Homo sapiens: one gene and its partner. The protein of the gene in region 1 purifies or fractionates together with the protein of each later gene. This does not show direct contact. Each region holds a gene or a part of one and is shown in the gene's direction. Other genes may lie near its edges.

The links. Proteins that work in one complex are often made in the same cells at the same time.
Region 2: the proteins of KCNV2 (region 1) and MTHFR purify together in Homo sapiens (affinity purification with mass spectrometry; 2 studies listed by BioGRID and IntAct, with this or other methods). This does not show direct contact.

What each region holds. Positions count from the first base shown.
Region 1 is NC_000009.12:2,726,493-2,732,017, forward strand, and holds the end of KCNV2 (potassium voltage-gated channel subfamily V member 2), read left to right. Parts: intron 1-2,953; coding exon 2,954-3,235; 3' UTR 3,236-3,545; downstream 3,546-5,525.
Region 2 is NC_000001.11:11,795,639-11,802,964, reverse strand, and holds part of MTHFR (methylenetetrahydrofolate reductase (NADPH)), read left to right. Parts: coding exon 1-84; intron 85-1,548; exon of another isoform or gene 1,549-1,565; coding exon 1,566-1,804; intron 1,805-2,642; coding exon 2,643-2,753; intron 2,754-6,565; coding exon 6,566-6,759; intron 6,760-7,326. UniProt on the Homo sapiens protein: Catalyzes the conversion of 5,10-methylenetetrahydrofolate to 5-methyltetrahydrofolate, a cosubstrate for homocysteine remethylation to methionine. Represents a key regulatory connection between the folate and methionine cycles.

The sequences.
Region 1 (5,525 bases):
AAAAAAAGAAGTTTGGCTTAAGGGTGAAGCAAAGCCAGTGTGCAGAATGATCAAAAGTTGAAAATAAGCAGTTTATCTTAATTATTTTCTTCCTCAGTGTCTTCCTACTCTCTCCCATCCCCGCCATCCTGAACCCTTAAGTGACTTGTTTCCTCCAAGGCCTCTGCATTGGACTTCCGTGGATGTCTCATGTTCTAAACCAGGGGTCCCCAATCCCGGGCTGTGGAGTGGTACTTGTCTGTGGCCTGTTAGGAACCCGGCCACACAGCAGGAGATGAGTGGAGGGCCATCAATCATTACCGCCTAAGTTCTGCCTCCTGTCAGATCAACCACAGCGTTAGATTCTCATAGGAGTGGGAACCCTATTGTTAACTGCGCATGGGAGGGATCTAGGTTGCTTGCTCCTTATGAGAATCTAACTAATACCTGACAACCTGAGATGGAGCAGTTTCATCCCGAAACCATCCCCTCCCCCAACCCCGTCCATGGGAAAAATGGTCGTCCACAAAACCGGTCCCTGGTGCCAAAGAGGTTGGGGACCGCTGTTCTAAACTACCCCTTCCTGTCACTCACTCCTAAATCCAAACTCCCTTTAGGCCTCCTCCAGGGAAGGTTGACTAAACTTTCATCCAGAGGTGTGAGTCATGGTGTTAGTGACAAATGAAAGCTATTGTTCAGCTCACACAACTGGAGAGAGATCAGCCTGGGGTTCTTTGACTTTTGGTGTGGTCAATGACAAGAAACACACACCCGGACACAGGAAGGGGAACATCACACACCAGGGCCTGTTGTGGGGTGGGGGAGGGGGGAGGGGTAGCATTTGGAGATATACCTAACGTTAAATGACAAGTTACTGGGTGCAGCACACCAACATGGCACATGTATACATATGTAACTAACCTGCACGTTGTGCACATGTACCCTAGAACTTAAATAAAAAAAAGACACACCCACTCATGCAACCAAGAGGACTTTGAGATTAACCCACAATCTCACTTTATCACTGCCTCACATCACCCCTTGGTCCAGAAGTTGGGAGAAGGATATTCTCTACTGGAGCCAGAGGGCAGAGTCAGGGAGGAGCTTGTTTCCACAGCCTGAGGGTCTGATAAGCATAACGTATATAGAGTTGCTGGTGTAGAATGCACTCAATAAATGTTGGTCTTTGCCTCTTCTCAGTGGAGGCCAGCTTCAGCATGGGGGACCCTGGGATTGCATACATGATATATATATAATAATATTATTGCTTACACACCCTGTGCCAGGCACTCCTTCAATTCCTATAACAACTCTGTGAGGTAGATACCACACATTTCAAAAGTAGAAACTGAGGCCAAGAGAATTTAGGTGATCTGCCCAACTTATTCAGCTGGGAAGTGGATTCAGACCCACAAGTCTACTGTAGTCCGTTTCCTTCAGCTTATCTACACCACATTACCTCTCTTGGATGCCTGCTTGTATTTTGACTCTGCAGAAAAAGGCTGCATGACCTCTCACAAGAGACAGGGCAGTGAGTGACAGGAGGTGCATCATCAGCCTCAAAAAGGAGGCATACCCTTCCTTTTTTCGTGGGCTGGATGGAGCTGTGGTTCTCATCAGTGCCCTCAGTTTTGTGCAGCTGGCTCACTTCTCCATTTCATTCTAATCAGTCAACTGCACTATTCCAGGTTCAAACTAACCCTTACATCATCAAAACAAAAATATTTACACTGCTAAGCTAACGGCCACCTCAGCACGGATCAACAAGATGACCATATGCTTTACTGCCGTCTGCTGGAAAATTATGGCAACAACTACCCAAATACACAAAGCAAAGAGTGCCCCCCTGGAGTAGTGCAACGCAAAAATGTTTACAACTGTGACCAACAGCTCTGCTTAAAAGGCTTCTAGTAATTTAGCCAATACTCTGGGGATCAGAGGGAGTACATGAGGCATAAAAAACAGTCCCCAAGGAATTTTCACAGGGTTTTCTCTGGTAACTGATAACTAGTCCCATGGTATCTGCATTTTAAAACAGAAGCTTGTTAACCTAAATAAGTCTCCAATTAGTGGGATTTAAATCAGTATGACAAGAGTAATGGGAAGTATTTCATGCAGGGGTGAACATATTTTTGGTGAGTGATGTCTTACAAAAGTCCCTTTACAAAATAATGAGAGTGTTTCTCCAGACATCTGCAATTAAAGCACCTTCACATAAAGTCTCTCATTTGAACTACGTAACAACTTTGAAAAGTGTTATAACTGTCTTCATTTTAAAGATGAGAGGAAGACAATGGAGGAGTTTCATGCCTTTTGTATGCCTGGTACTGTGTTCAGTGCTTTATATTCATTTTCTTATTTAGCCTTCACAAGAATCCTAAGAGTTAGATGGTTTTCTCCTGTTTTAAATAAAAAAAAAAAAAAAGAAAAAAAGAAAAAGAGAGAGAGAGAGTCTGAAGGTTTTGCCCCAGGTCACTCAACTGGAAAGGTTCAGAGTCAGGACTTGAACCCAGGTCTGACTGTTCTAAGCCCAAGATTTTTCCAATACATACAGTGTACAGGCAAACCCAGGGACCTGCTTTCCTGAATCTGGTGCCAGCTGAGTTAGGGAGGCAAAGATCATTTACTGAGCACGTTCTACATCAGGTACTTAACATACTATTTTAAATGCTCTTTACAGCAACCATTTCAAGTAGGTATTACCTCCTCCTCCCATATCTTACATTCAAACATGCATGAGTCGTAGTCAGGATTTCAGCCAAAGTCTTTCAGCTCCATCCATAGCTTCTGTTCTTTTCATGACACAGGTCCTAGAGGGAGTCTTCCTGGTACCTCCTAAAGCAGGCTCCGTGGGAAGCCATTACACTTCCCATGTGTACCCACAGGGAGGACGCTTCCCTGCTTGCTCCTCTCCCTTTCTTCTCCTCCCCGATCTTAGTGCTAACAATTCCATCCTGCTTTCCTTCCTCTACAGGTGAGCATCTCCACCGTGGGCTACGGAGACATGTACCCAGAGACCCACCTGGGCAGGTTTTTTGCCTTCCTCTGCATTGCTTTTGGGATCATTCTCAACGGGATGCCCATTTCCATCCTCTACAACAAGTTTTCTGATTACTACAGCAAGCTGAAGGCTTATGAGTATACCACCATACGCAGGGAGAGGGGAGAGGTGAACTTCATGCAGAGAGCCAGAAAGAAGATAGCTGAGTGTTTGCTTGGAAGCAACCCACAGCTCACCCCAAGACAAGAGAATTAGTATTTTATAGGACATGTGGCTGGTAGATTCCATGAACTTCAAGGCTTCATTGCTCTTTTTTTAATCATTATGATTGGCAGCAAAAGGAAATGTGAAGCAGACATACACAAAGGCCATTTCGTTCACAAAGTACTGCCTCTAGAAATACTCATTTTGGCCCAAACTCAGAATGTCTCATAGTTGCTCTGTGTTGTGTGAAACATCTGACCTTCTCAATGACGTTGATATTGAAAACCTGAGGGGAGCAACAGCTTAGATTTTTCTTGTAGCTTCTCGTGGCATCTAGCTCAATAAATATTTTTGGACTTGAGTTGACTTGAGAAAATTTTTTTTACTTTAAATTTTTCTAAAATTCTTAACTTTCCAGAGGGAGGGAGGGTTACAGCAGAAATTATACAAGCTTTGGAGTTAGACCAACCTTAGTCAGAATCCCAGAGCTACCAGCTGTATGCTTTTAGGCAAGCGACTCTAACCCTTTAAGCCTCAGTTTCTTCAACTGTGAAATGTAGGCAATACTTACCCTGCCAGGCTGAGCAATATAGTGAGACCCTGCCTCTACAAAAACTTATTAAGAATTATCTGGGTGTGCTGGCCCACACCTGTAGTCCCAGCTACTTGGAAGACTGAGGTGAGATCACTTGAGCCCAGGAGTTTGAGGTTAGAGTAAGCTATAACCACATTACTGCACTCCAATCTAGATGGCAGAGTAAGACCCTGCCTCAAATAAATAAATAAATAAATAAATAAATAAAACCACCTGCCTTGTAAAATGAGTCTGGGGATAACAGATATGTGTAAACGCTCAATAAATGATAGGTATTAAAATTGTTTAAGTGGATGTTATCTAGTGAAATCTCTAGACCAGTGGTTCTCAAAGGCAAATTCATTCCTCAGAGGCCAGCTAATGCCTAGAGATGGTTTTGATTGCCAATACCGTGAGGGGCAATAAGGGAGACTTCTGGCATCTAGGAGCTAGGGGCCGAGGATGTTGCTAAACATCCTACAAGGCAAAGGACAGCCCCCATAACAAAGAATTATCTGACCCAAAATGTCAATAGTGCCAAACTGGAGAAACTCTTGTCTAGATTTAATATGGGAGCCCCCAGATTGGACTTGTGAAACATGCCTAAATGTACTAATCCTCCCCCATTAGAAGGAGCCCCCATACTGTCCTTACTGACTCAGGCCTCCTTTTTCTCTTTTCCACAAAAGGAAGAAAAAAAAATAGCCCACCTCCTGAACAATTGCTGTGGGCAAAAGTAATTAAATCAGTGTGGCCCTCCACTCTCACTGTTGGTGGATTAGAGAACCAGTGCCCACAGGAAATGGGTCCTTTCTCTCCCTGTAACCTTTTCCTCTTCATTTCTTTGTCCTTCCTTGGGACTATTGGAAATGGAAGTGTTGAGAATTAAAGACTCCTTTGAACTGAGCACACAAAGATTGCCCTGTAACTGGAGCTTGCCAATGCAGACCCTCAAATTTGTCTCGGGGCATGGCTGGACCTATACTTGTGTCATAAGAATAAACTGCTGATTCAAGCAACAGAGAGAGAAAAAAATAAGAATAGTTGCCTACAATGAGAGGCAATTTGGACTGTATATGTAGCATATAACTTTAATATTTAATACATCCCTAAATAAGGTATTGGATTACTTTTTAATTTAGGAAGAAATGGAAGCTTGGAGAAGTTAAGTAATTCCACTACGTTCACACAGCCAGTAAACAGTGGGACTGGGGTTCAAGCCCAGGTCTGTCTGATCCCCAGGGCTCTTGATGGAGGGCTAAACTTGTATCATCAGCATCACCTGGACGGCTTGTTAAAGCCAAGCATGCTGGGCCCTGTCCCTGGGGTATCAATCAGTAGGCTTGGGAAGGAGCTCAAGGATTTGCATTTCTGACAAGTTCCAGGTGATGCTGATGGCGCTTGTGTGAGGGAACACATGTTGAGAGCCAGGGGTCTAAATCACTTTGCTCTGCCCTCCCATAAGGAGCTAGGATTATGAAAGGAGGCTATAACTGGAAAACTCTATTTAGATCCCACTCCCCCTTACTCCCAAGTGTTCTTATCATCAGCAGTGACCTGGCCTCTGAAGGGTGAACAGAAGCCCTACTGTCCTAAGGTTGCCAGATAAAATACAGGATGCCTGGAGTGTCTTACTCTGTACTGCTAAAACAGAATATTACAGGCTGGGTAATTTTCAATGAACAGACACTTACTGCTCACAGTTCTGGAGTCTGGGAATCCCAAAATCAAGGCATGTGCACGTTCAGTTGTCTGATGAGAGCTGCT
Region 2 (7,326 bases), on another chromosome or scaffold:
GCGATTGGAATCTGGTGACAAGTGGTTCTCCCTGGAATTCTTCCCTCCTCGAACTGCTGAGGGAGCTGTCAATCTCATCTCAAGGTAAACTCATGCAAGGTTAAGGTGGGAGGCGGGAGTGGTGGTGCCTGGGGAGCAAACTGTCAGCCCTGAGGCTGGGCTGCCCTTTAACCCGGCAGAAAAAAGCAGCCGGAGGGGGCAGGAAGGAGAAGGCAGAGTGGGTCATCTGATCTGCAACTTCTCTGTTGCCTGTAAAAGTCCCTCCACAGTGTCAAGGTATTTTAGACACACTCTTCAATGGGTTAAAAATGTTGATTCTCACACTGTATTCTTTGAGGGAACTTGGGGGCTGGATCACGAGTGCAGTTTAGGAAGTCACAAAGCAGTGAGATTGTTTTCAGCAAGTTAGAAATTTGGATTATGCTTCTTGAACTCTAGAAATGCCAACTGAATTACATTAGCACTTCATGAATTGCAGTTTTTTTTTTAAGTTTATGCCTTTTACTGTATGCACGTCTCACGTGTCACTCCCAAGTTTTTGAAGTTTAAATGCACAAGGATGTTTAAATACACCGTTGATAGCTTGTAACACAAGTACTCGTGCACATCCAGGCTTTTTTTTGAGTCTCGTTTCGGAACTTGGCCTTGGTCTGCATAACTGTAAGCTGCTGCACAGGGCTTGGGGGGTGGCATGAAAGAAAGTGAGTCTGCTGACCCTCTTTCTAACTGTTCCTACAGCGAGGCTGTGCTTGCCACAGTTAGGATTCCCCTAACTCTCAATCATGATGTCTTAACTCACCTGAGATAATAAACAGGCAAGCGCTGTGAAAAGTCTGAAGTGCTGCTCTCACACAAAATGATAGCGCTGTTGTTGTGTCTTACCTCTGTAATAGTGATTATAACGGCACCTCACATATACTGAGTATTCGGTTTGTACACCAGGCACTGTTCTAAGTTCTGTGGAACCAGCTGCCGTCATATTCTCCTAGTGTTATGGTTTTTTGTTGTTGTTGTTGCTTTTTTTTTTTTTTTTTTTTTTTTGAGACAGAGTCTCATTCTGTGGCCCAGGCTGGAGTGCAGTGGTGTGATCTTGGCTCATTGCAACCTCTGCCTCCTGGCTCAAGCAATTCTCCTGCCTCAGCCTCTCAAGTAGCTGGGATTACAGGTGCCCACCACCACACCCAGCTAATTTTTGTATTTTTAGTAGAGATGAGGTTTCACTATGTTGGCCAGGCGGTCTGGAACTCCTGACCTCAAGTGATCCACTCACTTCAGCCTCCTGAAGTGCTGGGATTACAGGCGTGAGCCACCACGCCCAGCATCCTAGTGTTATTATGAAGTGGGTACTACTATCTGCCGTGTCTTATAAATAAGGAAACAGAACTCACAGAGATTAAGTAATGTACCCAAGATCACACAGCTATAAGTAGCAAAGCCAGGATATGAACGCTGATTGGTCTGTCTCCAACCTTCATTGATGCTTCTCTAACTCCCGGGCCCCATGGGAAGGCAGTGACGGATGGTATTTCTCCTGGAACCTCTCTTCAGAAACAAACCCCCTACAGGTTTGACCGGATGGCAGCAGGTGGCCCCCTCTACATAGACGTGACCTGGCACCCAGCAGGTGACCCTGGCTCAGACAAGGAGACCTCCTCCATGATGATCGCCAGCACCGCCGTGAACTACTGTGGCCTGGAGACCATCCTGCACATGACCTGCTGCCGTCAGCGCCTGGAGGAGATCACGGGCCATCTGCACAAAGCTAAGCAGCTGGGCCTGAAGAACATCATGGCGCTGCGGGGAGGTGTGGAGCCAGCACTCCCCTACACTCTGGGTTCTGGCTTTCCCGGAGGCCACTTGGTAGCCTGAACTTGGTTCCTGAAATGGTCCTTTACTTCTTCCTGGGCCCCACGCTGAGGATCCGCAGGATCCCATCCCCGCCAGTAGTGTCAGTAGGCATTGTGGGTAGTGAGTCATCCTGGGCACCACACACAGGCAGCCACCTCTTCCACCTCTTGACCTCGACATAGGAGTTCCGTCAGGAATGCAGTCGCGGCCTGATAACCCTCTGCCTTGCCTACACCACTGCATCGATTGCTGGCTGCACCCAGCACTTGGCCCAATCACAGAGTAACAGAGTATCCAGGAGTGAGAATAGCCGGTCAGGCCTCTGGTGCCCGCTGTTGTCAGGCCACCTAAGAGTGGGAAGAGGGAGCCTGATGGGTGGGATCCTATGGCCTCGTGCTCCCTACCACAAGACCCCTTCACTTGAGATGAGTAGAAAATTCTCCCAGGAGGCAGGAGCCCCAAGGCCGTGGGATGGGAGAGGGTGGCAGGCATGCCCAGGTAGAAGTAGGGAAGGGCTCTCCAATCCTCCAGGCACGGTGAGAAGCAGCGGTGGTCTCCTATTCTCCACCGCCAGCACAGGGTCAGCATGCAGTGAATATTGAACTGGTGGGCTGCTTTTTTCCCTCCTGCTGTCTTACCAAGTGCTAGAAAGAGACGAACCAAACCTAAATAATATGAAGTTTCTGCCTTCCAGGGACTCGCAGTCCTGGGTGTCGGGGCTAGGTAGAGGGAACAGAAAGGGTCTCTGGAGGTTGGGTGAGACCCAGTGACTATGACCTCCACCAACCCTGCAGACCCAATAGGTGACCAGTGGGAAGAGGAGGAGGGAGGCTTCAACTACGCAGTGGACCTGGTGAAGCACATCCGAAGTGAGTTTGGTGACTACTTTGACATCTGTGTGGCAGGTGAGTGGCTGGATCATCCTGGTGGCGGGGATGGAGCTAGGGAGGCTGAGATGCCCAGAGAGCCTGTCGGTGTTCGGTTCAGGACACAGTGATCAGGGGCACTCATGGGTCCATGCTGGATGAAGGACATGCAGAGGTGAACTGCACCATGTCCTTGCTCCTTTTGTATCACCCACTCCCCTCCTGGGCCTGCCACCATCGACCCCTAGCTTTTTGTTCCTCTGCCTGGCTGTGCCCTTAGCCTGCTTGGCCTTATTCTTTTCTTTAAAACGAAAGAGGGGTCTGGGCGCGGTGGCTCACACCTGTAACCCCAACACTTTGGGAGGCCGAGGCAGGCAGATCACCTGAGGTCAGGAGTTTGAGACCTGCCTGGCCAACATAGCGAAACCCCGTCTCTACTAAAAATACAAAAATTAGCCAGGTGTGGTGGTGCACGGCTGTAGTCCCAGCTACTCAGGAGGCTGAGCCAGGAGAATCTCTTGGACCCAAGAGGCGGAGGTTGCAGTGAGCCGAGATGGTGCCGCTGCAGTCCAGCCTCAGTGGCAGAGCAAGACTCCATCTCAAAAAAAAAAAAAAAACAACACCCCACAAAAGAGGGATATTTACTAACAGGATTCCAGAGGGCAGGGAACCCAAGATCAGGAGATGGCCTCAGACCTCACAAGGCACTGGAAGAGGTCAAAAAGCAAGGCCCTCCCTCATTCCCTCTGGGGCCACAGGGTCCCCCATCTCCGCTTCCCACTGCACATCTGTGCTTCATCTGGGAGACCTGATACCCATGCTTTTCCACACACCTGGCCTGCTCCTGAGTGTGCAGAGTGTCAGTTCCAGCCAGTTCCCCAGGCTAATGGACAGGCCTCCGTTCCAAATTCCCAGGAAAGAGAATCACCATTGGCCACAGCCACAAGACCAGGTTCCCCCAACAGAAATGGGTGGGTTGGACTTCTCTCCCACCCTTGAAGCTGAAGGCTGGCATTGAGCCCTCAGCGTCTCAGACAGCGCTCAGGTATGGCAAGACAGTGTGCACCAGGGACAGGAAGTCCCGGGATTGGCACATTTTCTGGGATGACAGTTTTTTTGCCAATATTCTGGGAGAAATCCTACCATTTTTATATTAAACATGGCTATGTTATGGAGTAGCATCTAAAGTGATATGAACTAAAAAAAAAAGGCCAGGTGCGGTGGCTGAAGCCTATAATCCCAGCACTTTGGGAGGCCAAGGCGGGTGGATCATGAGATCAGGAGTTTGAGACCATCCTGTCCAACATAGTGAAACCCCGTCTCTACTAAAAATACAAAAATTAGCCGGGCATGGTGGCGCGTGCCTGTAGTCCCAGCTACTTGGTAGGCTGAGGCAGGAGAATCGCTTGAACCCAGGAGGCGGAGCTTGCAGTGAGCCGAGATCGCACCAATGCACTGTAGCCTGGGCAACAGAGCCAGACTCCGTCTCAAAAAAAACAAAACAAAAAACCCAAAAAACAAACCACGTGGCTTCAAGAAAATTACATGTTGTGAGTAACTTTGGCCTTGTCCCTAACCCCCGATGGACATGTCCATTCTGTCAACAGGGGTGTTTAGGTGCTAAGTCTGGGAAGCACTGATTAGGAGTCAGAGAACAGACATTTCCAACTGTTAAATTGTCATCGCTTGTATCAGCCATTATATAGTCAGTTACTGGGGGAATATGCACCCGTGATGGGCGTTAGGTGATAATGATTGGAAACTAGTGAAGCTGTGAGCTCACAGTTGCTGAATGGTTTCTTACTTTGCTTATCAAGTGGGTAATGAAGATGAGTGGATTAGAAAACACCAACCTGTTGGGCATGGTAGCTCATGCCTGTAATCCCAGAGCTTTGGGAGACTGAGGCAGGAGATCAAGACCAGCCTGGGCAACACAGTGAGACCGTGTCTCTACAAAAAATAAAAACATTTTAAAAAAGAAAGCCCTCAGCTGTTCATGATAGAAAAATAGAGTAAATAGCAAAATCTATACGTAATCAAATGCTAGATTTGTTCGGTGATATTTAGGTATTGTAGCTATACTTTTCAGCTATTAAAAAGCCTTGTTGTTTCTGAAATTCCTACTGGGAAAATAGCTTTGTTATTGCAAGTGTGAAGCCCCATTGCTTTATCCCCCACTCCCTTACCCCTTGAAACAATAGTTTTTATATTCATTTTTTGATGACTCTGGGTTTCTTAAGAACGGAACTGCCTTATCAGAGCAAAGCAGCTTGGCCTTCCGCCTGGCTCAGAGTCCTGCCCTGGGCTTGGGCTGATGAAACCAGCACTCCATGTAGTTTCATGAAGGCCTATGGTCATCCTGCTTGCCTGACCGAGCAAGGCGGCTAGTAAGTTTAGTCATTGAGGAAAGGGGTCAGAGAGTTCACAGAGCCAGTAAGGAGCCTATGGGACATCTGATCCCACCTCCTAAGCAATTCTGGAATCTTGTCTTCAGCATCCACTGCCCCTGTGTTTTCAGACTCCAGGAGCTCATTGTTTTGTGAGTGGCTTATAGTACTCTAGCCAGCTCTCTGAACCGGATGCTGGTTCTGCCATTAGAAACAACACAGAATATGACTAATAAAGAACTTCACTAGGGGGCTGGGTACAGTGGCTCATGCCTGTAATCTCAGCACTTTGGGAGGCCAAGGTGGGAGGATTGCTTGAGCCCAGAAGTTCCAGACAAACCTGGACAAGATAGCAAGACCCCATCTCTAAAAAATAAATAATTAATTAAAAAAATTTTTTTTAATTAGCCAGATGTGGTGGCTTGCATCTGTAGTCCAAGCTACTCAGGAGACTGAAGTGGGAGATCACTTGTGCCCGGGAGTTCAAGGCTACAGTGAGCCATGATTGTATCACTGCACTCTAGCCTGGGTGACAGAGCAAGACCCTGTCTCTGAAACAAAACAAAACAAACTCACCTATGGTGGATCCTTTTTCCCCAGGACAGACCTTTGGACATTTGAAAGGAGTTTCTGTATTCTTTTCATTCTTTTTTTTTTTTTTTTTTTTGAGACGGAGTTTCGCTCTCGTTGCCCAGGCTAGAGTGCAATGGTACGATCTCGGCTCACTGCAACCTCTGTCTCGTGGGTTCAAGCAATTTTCCTGACTCAGCCTCCTGAGTAGCTATTACAGGCATACACCACCACACCTGGCTAATTTTTGTATTTTTGGTAGAGACGGGGTTTTACCATGTTGGCCAGGCTGGTCTCGAACTCCTGACCTCAGGTCATCCTCCTGCCTTGGCCTCCCAAAGTGCTGGGATTACAGACATGAGCCACCGCACCCTGCCATCCATTATTTTCTTTGAAGAAAACATCACTTTCTTCAGTTCTTCCTTGTGTAACTTGGTTTTTAGCTTTTCACTATCTTGGACCCCTGAGTAATTTCAGTGTTACATTAAAAACAATGTTTAATCCGGTGCCTAGAGAAAAGTCAAGCTTACTACCCCAGATGCTGCCCAGCCAGTGCTAACTGTAGCATTTTCTCTTTTCTATGGCCACCAAGTGCAGGCCTGATTTGCTTGGCTGCTCAAGGCAGGACAGTGTGGGAGTTTGGAGCAATCCACCCCCACTCTTGGAACTGGGCTCTGAGCCACCTCCCCTGAGAGTCATCTCTGGGGTCAGAAGCATATCAGTCATGAGCCCAGCCACTCACTGTTTTAGTTCAGGCTGTGCTGTGCTGTTGGAAGGTGCAAGATCAGAGCCCCCAAAGCAGAGGACTCTCTCTGCCCAGTCCCTGTGGTCTCTTCATCCCTCGCCTTGAACAGGTGGAGGCCAGCCTCTCCTGACTGTCATCCCTATTGGCAGGTTACCCCAAAGGCCACCCCGAAGCAGGGAGCTTTGAGGCTGACCTGAAGCACTTGAAGGAGAAGGTGTCTGCGGGAGCCGATTTCATCATCACGCAGCTTTTCTTTGAGGCTGACACATTCTTCCGCTTTGTGAAGGCATGCACCGACATGGGCATCACTTGCCCCATCGTCCCCGGGATCTTTCCCATCCAGGTGAGGGGCCCAGGAGAGCCCATAAGCTCCCTCCACCCCACTCTCACCGCACCGTCCTCGCACAGGCTGGGGGCTCTGGGTGGAGTGCTGAGTTCGCTGAGTTCTTCCCAGATCTCCTCTCAGGTCCAGAACTTGCACAGCGTTGCTTGGCCACCCCATTTTGGTTACCTCTAATTTTCCCCCCAAAACCCAGCAACAGTGTCTGTTGAGGGGTTTGTTGTACTTTGGCCAACAAGCATCACCAAAAGGGATTCTAATTCTCATTACAAATCCTGCTTAAATCAGTGTTTCCCAAAGGTGGCTGTCATCAGAACCACTTGATAAGCTTTTTCAAAAAGTGGATCTCCAGGTCCCACCCCTGGAGGTTCTCACTCAGTAAATCTGAGGGAGGTCCTCGGAATGTGTGTTTTACTTCTTGAGCTTGGCAGGTGATTCGGATGATCAGTGCAGCATGGGAACAGCTGGGTTAGATGACACCATGTTACCAACAGACACATCTAGGGCTAAAAGGCTGGCTCAACCCAAGGCTGGAATGCTTAGGGCAGCTGCTCTACTCTGTAAAAAGTG